Regions from separate parts of the Homo sapiens genome. Here regions 1 and 2 are each linked to region 3. Evidence: fine-mapped expression QTL. A gene starts in region 3. Each other region holds a variant in brackets. All regions are shown on one strand. Distances are between the middles of the regions.

Region 1 (2,500 bases), 130 kb after region 3:
GGTTCTCATCGTTCTGCCAGTTTTCTTCTCAATCCTCAAAGCCCCTACCCTGAACTAACGGCAATTTCTATGGGGATAAAGAACATATCCATACTACCTGCAAAGGGAACTCCCTCATATTCAGTCCTGCTGCCTGCTGGGTATCACTCCAATGTCTCACTAGCACCTAAAACTCAACTGATGTCCCAAACCTGCCATCCCTACCCACAGTTTTGCTATTGGCAATACCTTCTTTCCAATCACCCAGTTTTGAAACTTCATTGCTAACTAAATCATCTCTCTAATAGCCAATCACTTTCCAGGTCCAATATGTTCTTCTTCTGCACTTCCCTTTCTCTCTGCCCCCGCTGCTACTGCCATAGTGTGGCCTCTTCCTTTCCTGGACTTTTGAAATAACCCTCTAACTGGTGTTCCTTTCTTCCTCTTCCTGCTTCTACTTGCCTTGCCCATTATACTGCTGCCTGGTTGGTTTTCCTGAAAAACTGCTCTAATGTTTAAAACCCTCCAATAGTTCTACTGTGGTGATAGAATAAAATAAAATCTATAGCCTGGTATTCAAGGCTTTCCAAAATCTGATGCCTCCTGTTCAACCTGACATCCTATGATCCCCCTCCTAGCACCCTGTGCTCCAGGCTTAGTGAACTACTTGTGGTTTCCTGTCCATGCCTCTTGATACTCTGCCTCTGTACAAGCTGTTCCTTCACCCCATAATCCCCTACATTCCTGCCATTGTTGCATTATCAAACCCCACCCAACCCTTTAAGGCCTCACTCAAACACCATCTCCTAGAAGCCTTCTCTGATTCTCAGCCACTCGTCTCTCCACCAGCTGAATAACTCGCTCTTCTGAGTTCACGTAGCACTACTTTCTTAAACACCACTTTCTATCTTGTATTATAATTGTTTACGCAGGACTCATTTCCCTTACTAGATCATATCCTCACTGAAGATGAGATCTGTGTTTGATTCTCCACTGTATTCTCCAAAGTGCCTACTACAATATCTTGTACATAATACAGTTTGAGTATCCCTTATCTGAAATTTTTAGGAACAGAAGTGTTTCAAATTTCTGATTTTTTCAGATTTTTTCAGAATATTTGCATAATACCAGTTGATATCTCAAATCCAAAAATCCAAAATATGAAATGTTCCAATAAGCATTTCCCTTGAAGATCTTGTCAGTGCTCAAAAAGTTTCCAATTTTGGA[G/A]CATTTTGGACTTGGGGATTTGGGATGCTCAACCTGTATGCAGAAATATTTGCTGAATGAATGAATGAGTGAATAATACAGACTAGCTGGGATCTGAATCTTAGGACATGCTGATGTTCGTAAAGTGCTTGTGATACAAGCTGTGTTCACAAGGCCTTCTATTTCTGCTAAGGGTGCTACCCATTGGTTTACGTAAAGCCTTGCTGAATGGGCCCATGACGAGAGCTTCACTGCTGAAGCTTATTCAAGTTTGTTAAATCAGTTATCTTCTCATTAGAACTAGTCAGCCCCCAACCTCCCTCTGGCTCACAGATGTCCCTGGCTCTGGGCTCACTTCCCTCTTCCTCAGTGAGCAGAACTGGAAAATTCTGGTTGCTGGGCAATTCTACATAAAAGAAATAACAAAAATACTGTATCGCAATATGTGTTTCTTTTTGAGAATAGCAATATTACTTTATGTTGCTTATAGTAGTCTAAGCACATTGGCAAGCATATGGACAATGATATTTGGTAGAAATACTAAAATGAACATATAATATGCATTTTACCAATGAACTTTTAAAATCAGAAATGTGCTTGATATGGTTTGGCTGTGTCCCAACCCAAATCTCAATGTGAATTGTATCTCCCAGAATTCCCAGGTGTTGTAGGAGGGACCCAGGGGGAGGTAATTGAATCATGGGGGCCGCTCTTTCCTGTGCTATTCTTGTGATAATGAATAAGTCTCACGAGATCTGGTGGGTTTATCAGGGGTTTCTGCTTTTGCTTCTTCCTCATTTTTCTCTTGCTGCTGCCAAGAAGTGCCTTTCACCTCTTGCTATGATTCTGAGGCCTCCTCAGCCATGTGGAAGTGTAAGGTTCAATTAAACTTCTTTTTCTTCCCAGTCTCTGGTACGTCTTTATCAGCAGCATGAAAATGAACTAATACAGTGGTTTTTGGTCAAGGGGAGAAGTGGTCTATAGCTTGGTGAAAAGAGGTTATACCCTGGACAGTTCCATTTCAAATAACTGTAGAGAGAGACATTTAAAGAGAACACGTACCTGGAGTTTCAACTGTGTCTTGCTTTTTGGTTGTTCCCTTTGTGTTAATTTCACAACTTACATGATAAAAAGTGAAAAGCAAATGATGTTTTTGATGTAGGTGAATGGGAAGCTCAATTTTAATCTGAAATGAAAGCAAAATTACACATGGAACTTCGTTTTCTCAAGCTGAAACTGTCAGACATTAGTTCAGTTTCATCATACTGCTCCAAAAATACTTCCTAAAGGACTGGCCAAGTGGCCAAATAGTAGG
Region 2 (2,500 bases), 180 kb after region 3:
TGCATTAAAGGCCATGTGGTTGCTTTCTCAAAAGATCTTATAAAGTTGGAATCTTCTAATTCCCTTTTATCAACTGCACTTTGCTGAGTCTCTTCTAATACTCTTTCCTTCGTTTTATTTTTGCACTTTCTCTCACGATGTGATTCCTCCCTTCCTTGCTATTAGAGTCCTCCCTCCCTCCCTTTTTTTTTTTTTTTGAGACAGAGTGTCGCTCTGTCACCCAGGCTGGAGTGCAGTGGCACAATCTTGGCTCACTGCAACCTCCACCTCTTAAACTCAGGTGATCCTCCCACTTAAGCCTCCAGAGTAGCTGGGACTATAGGAGTGCACCACCACGCCTAGCTAACTACCTTTGTATTTTTTGTAGAGGCGAGGTTTCGTCATGTTGCTCAGGCTGGTCATGAACGCCTGGGCAGATTCCTTTATTTCTAACAGTCAAAATGTCCAGCAAAACAACTCAGACCTATTTCTAAGATCAGTTTAAAGTTGCGCATAATTTCAAACTTTCCAAAGAACTGACTGTAATTTTTTTTTTAAGAGATCGAGTATTGCTCTGTCAGTCAGACTGGAGTACAGTCATGCAATCACAGCTCACTGTAGCTTTGACCTCCCAGGCTCAAGCGATCCTCCCACCTCAGCTTCTCAAGTAGCTGCAAATACAGGCATGCGTCACCATGCCCAGCTAATTTTTTTATTTTTTGAAGAGACAGGGCTCGCTATGTTGCCCAGGCTAGTTTCGAACTCCCAAACTCAAGCCATCTTCCTGCCTTGGCCTCCCAAAGTGCTAAGATTACAGGCATGAGCCACTATGCCCAGCACATAATTTTTAAAATTTAGAAATTTCTTAATGAATAAAGACGCTTAAACGTACACCTCTCTCTAAAAGGCACCAAGATGCCTTGCTTTTATTCCCTAGCAATTCCAGAGGGAACTGCAGGCCAGTGTCAAGCCACAGGGCATCAAATAAGCTCAGCTAAAACACAGGGAAGAAGCTTGGCTTATGGAGGCTGTTATTTGCCACTGAGTCATGGTTAATAACCAGATCTGCTCTTGCTTCCTAGTTAGTTTGCCATGAGTTTGCAGGGGCTATCGAAGCTTGGATTTTCCAAAAAGAAAAGATTCTTTGCTCTCAACTCTGCAAGCTCTGGCCCTGAGGTGCTGGTTGCTAAATCTACCAATGCTTCTTACCAGTGTGGGCTGGAGTTCCTAGCGGGCAGGGAACTCCAGATGCTCTAAGGATAAACCTGCCTCCAGGATTGGGGAAATGACTCAGATAATAGCACACCTGAGTCATCTTCCCATTTGCTTATGAGCTTCATTAGTATTCTTCACTTCAAACATTACCATAGTAGAAAAAAAATACATAGAAACTTTCCTCTCAAACTCTGTCAACCCTTTGTCTCAGTTCTTCTGCCTCTGCCTTTTCCAATTATCCAAGAGCTGGGTCAGCTGCTCACCTCATCTTTAGCTTTAGCCTCCTATGCCTGAAACAATCCAGACGTGATGCAGGAAGAACTTATATGATCCCCCACCC[T/C]GTAACAGAGCACTGAAAGGTACAAACCAGACTCTCCCAGTGTGCCTTTGTTCATAGGCCTGGACTTGTGCTTTGGCCTTCACTTCAAGTTCTAGCCTGGAAACTATAAAACTGCTCCCCCTTTTCAATCCTCTGCCCCATACACTCACTTGCCCTGTATTGATACAGAAAGAGAACATGAAAAAATGATGTGTCAACACTGCAGTTCCAACTAATTTCAATAATGTTGAACTAAATAACAGTTAAAACACTTTTTTTTTTTGAGATAAGGTGTCACTCTGTCACCCAGGCTGGAGTGCAGTGGCTCAATCTCGCCTCACTACAGCCTCGACCTCCCAGGCTGAAGTGATCCTCCTACTTCAATGTCCCAAGTACCTGGGACTACAGGGGAGCACCAATTCACATGGCTAATTTTGTTCATTTTTGTAGAGACAGGGTCTCGCTATGTTGCCTAGGCTGGTCTTAAACTCCTGGGTTCAAGTGATCCTCCCATATTGGCTTCCCAAACTGCTGGGATTATAGGCATGAACTACCACGCCTGGCCCAAAATACAATTATTAGAGGAAAAAGTAATCTTGGCAAAATGCCTCAGAAGGTTCTAGCTGAACCTTCCTCTGATTCCCATTCTAGCTGTGACAAATTCTGAAATACAACACTACTGCTATGGCTCAGGAGATGAAATCAGAAGAGTTTGAAATTCAAAATGGAGATTCATAATTTATAATGGAAAAGAGTGGGGATAAAGGAAACTCATAACCAGAAACAGCTCCCAAACCTCAATATGGCCTTTGCATTTCAAAGTATTTCCTATTAACTTTTTTTAAGCTGTGTAGTAGCCAGGCATGGTGGCTGATGCCTGTAATCTCAGAATTTTGGGAGGACAAGGTGGGAGGATCACTTGAGTCCAAGAGTTTGAGACCAGCCTGCACAACATAGGGAGACCCCATCTCTATCAAAAACAAACAA
Region 3 (2,784 bases):
GCTGCTCCTAAGGAAGTCATTAACTCCCAATTTTTCACAACTGCCAGGTTGATTAACTAGAAGTTACCAAACAGGGTGAGGGATATACACAACTCTCTGAAGTATCTTTGCAACTTTTCCATAAATCTACAATTACCCTAAAATATAAGGTTTATTAAAGAGAGTGGGGTGGGGGGAGCATCTGCCGGGATGCTATTCTGGATTTCCCAAAGGATTTCTTCGACGCCAGAGGAGGTCATGAGCGTCACGTCCTTTTTCAACAAGGACTGAGATGTTTAGAGGTTCCCTTCAACTTCCACTCGCAAGAGCCACCCTTAGACAGTGAGGATTGGCGCGGCCTCGGGCAAAGAGCCCCGGCGCGTTCTCAGCTCGCCTGGACTTCGGTCGTGGTCCCCGCCGGCTCTGGCGCCTCATTTCCTCCCGGGCTCACAGGCGACATTCCGGGCGCTGACCCACGGCCCTCTGACGCCGTGGGCATGTTTCGGGCCCCCCGCCCCCGCACGCCTGGACGCCAGCCTCCTGGGCTCTTCCCACTACAAGTCGCAGCCCTCTTACTTCGCTGCCGCCACCTCCGCCGCACCCGGAGTTCGGGAAAACCCCGCAGCTCCCGGGTCCCACCTCGAACCGGCCCCAGTACCGGGCCCCAGAGATCCCGCGCGGGAAGCCGCAGCCGCCGAGCGCGGGGCCTCGCGAGGGCAGCCCCCAGCACCCACCCCAGCTTCGGCCCTCCGCCCGGCGTTGACCTCCGGGGCCTTTCAGCCGTGACCCTCACCGCCCTCAGCCCTCCGGCCGCCCCTCGGGCCCCGAGGGTCGCACTCACCCGTAGGCGCGGCGCCCCCGCCCCCGCCCCCGCCGCCGGCGCAGAGCAGCAGCGCCCACAGCCCGCAGAGCCGCGCCGGCCACTCCATGCAGCCTCTCGCCTCGGAGCCCGGCCGGGCTGGAGCCTTGGCAGTCCCCGCCTCCTTCGCTCCCTCTTCCACTTCCCGGCTCCGCCGCCCTGGAGGCTGGGGGCCGGCGCAGACGGGAAGGGCCGCCCCGCCCACCGGCCTCAGGTAACCTGAGCCGGCGAGAGCGGCCGGAGGAGGCGGGGCGGGGCGCCGGCGGCTCTGGCGGCTCTGGCGGCTCCTACGGCTCCCAAGGCTGGACACCTGGCCCACCCGCAGCTCCCGCGTCCGGTCTCTGACCGAACAAAACTTCTTCCACCACGTCGCCGCCCACTCCGGGCGCTGCCTGGGCCTCCTCCCTCCGCGTGGCGGAGCCGGCGTCGCCGCTGCCAGCACACTTGCGGGGCCTCGGAGGTGCTAGGGGCTGTGCCCTGCTGGACACCAGGACAGAGTCATCTGCGGAAAAGAGCCTTGGCCTGGGAGTCTGGAGACCTGGCTTCCAGCCCTTGACCTCTGAGCCCTTGTTTGCTAGCGCTGACTCCAGGGTTAGTAATACCAGCCCTACTTCACTGGGTGGAGTTGGGGACACTGGCAGTACTGTGCTTTGTGAAAAGGACAAAGGGCATATTTGAAAGCTGGCAATACATAATGTTGATTTTAAAAGGAACATTCCAAACATGAGGGAGGATACCATACGTGCATTTTTTAAAGCACACGACAAACTTTCTACATATTTTTCAAAGGGATGGGAGGTGAATCGGAAGAATACACATTGATACTTGGGCGCCTATGAGGGTCAGTGAGGCTGGGAGGAAGGAAAACAAGAGTCCTTAGGCGTTTCCTGTTGCTGCTGTCAAAAATGACCACAAATTTAGTGATTTAACAGTTTTATTTTATTACAGTTCTGGAGGTCAGAAGTGACACTGAGCTTAAATCAAGGTGTGGGCAGAGATGTATTCCTTCTGGATATTCTAGGGGAGAATCTGTGTCTTTGACTTTTCCAGCTTCTAGAGGCTACCCACATTCCTTGGCTTGTTGCGGAACTACTCAGACCTCTGCTTCCCTTGTCGTATCTGACTCTGACCCTCTTACTTCCCCTTTTCCCTTATAAATACCCTTGTGATTAGATTAGGTCCACCAGATAATTCATAATAATCTCCCCATCTCAAAATCCTTGATTTAATCATAACTGAAAAGTCATTTTTGCTATGTAAGTTAACATATTCACAGGTGTTGGGGATCACGATATGGAATCATGGGAGGGGGACATTATTCTATCACCTTCTCCCAAAAAAGAATCATGTCTAGGTGGATGATGAGACCCATAATGAGGTGTATTTTGGCCGAATTAAGCCAATGCATATACCTGAAAACAGTTACAAAAAGTATAGCAATAAAAATGCTGATAATATACCTAGTCTAGACCCCACCCAAAGGGCACAGGGTTGTTTAACCTATTCACAACAAAGGTTCCACTCTTGGAATTAAGGCTCTCAAACTCAATAAATATTTATGAAATTGTTCCAGGAACTGTTGAAGACACTCACCAAAAGCAAGCTCTGCTAACAGAAAGCTGCAGTCAGTCTGAGGGGCAATGATAAGGGCAAGAACAAGGAATTATGGGATACAAAAAGGGTACCTTTTGGGAGGGAAGGAGCAAGGGAAGCTTCCAGGAGGAGGGCCTGCCTGTGCTGAATCTCAGGATGTTGATTCTTTTGGCTAACGGTTCAGAATAAATTCCAGAATCCAGGCATGGTGGCATGCACCTGTAATCCCAGCTATTCTGGAGGCTGAGGTGGAAGGATCACCTGAGCCCAGGAGTTCAAAACCAGCCTGGGTCTGTAACAGAGTGAGACCCCGTTCTCAAAAAAAAAAAAAATAAATCCTGGCTTGCATGTGT

Direction of the effects. Alleles are on the strand shown, and positions count from the first base shown. SD is a standard deviation of normalised expression in the study named. Not every link is listed here.
As copies of G replace A in region 1, the expression in esophagus mucosa of the gene that starts at base 941 in region 3 goes down (small effect, 0.19 SD a copy in GTEx).

Evidence for each region. PIP is the estimated chance that this variant, and not a neighbour inherited with it, causes the effect.
Region 1: its variant is the best candidate, but not a certain one, in a credible set for the expression of IL13RA1 in esophagus mucosa (GTEx, PIP 0.52).
Region 2: its variant is the best candidate, but not a certain one, in a credible set for the expression of IL13RA1 in whole blood (TOPMed, PIP 0.59).

What each region holds. Positions count from the first base shown.
Region 1 is chrX:118,593,085-118,595,584 of GRCh38, reverse strand. It overlaps DOCK11 (dedicator of cytokinesis 11), which reads right to left. Exons shown (of 53, transcript NM_144658.4): 20 at 2,248-2,371. Among named protein-coding and RNA genes, the nearest start is that of DOCK11, 99 kb to the right of the region's middle. The variant G/A (reference allele first, on the strand shown) is at 1,207.
Region 2 is chrX:118,549,735-118,552,234 of GRCh38, reverse strand. The region is part of intron 6 of DOCK11 (dedicator of cytokinesis 11); the gene reads right to left. Among named protein-coding and RNA genes, the nearest start is that of DOCK11, 55 kb to the right of the region's middle. The variant T/C (reference allele first, on the strand shown) is at 1,535.
Region 3 is chrX:118,725,763-118,728,546 of GRCh38, reverse strand. It overlaps IL13RA1 (interleukin 13 receptor subunit alpha 1), which reads right to left and starts at 941. Exons shown (of 11, transcript NM_001560.3): 1 at 821-941. The coding sequence starts at 908. RefSeq lists a silencer at 903-1,332.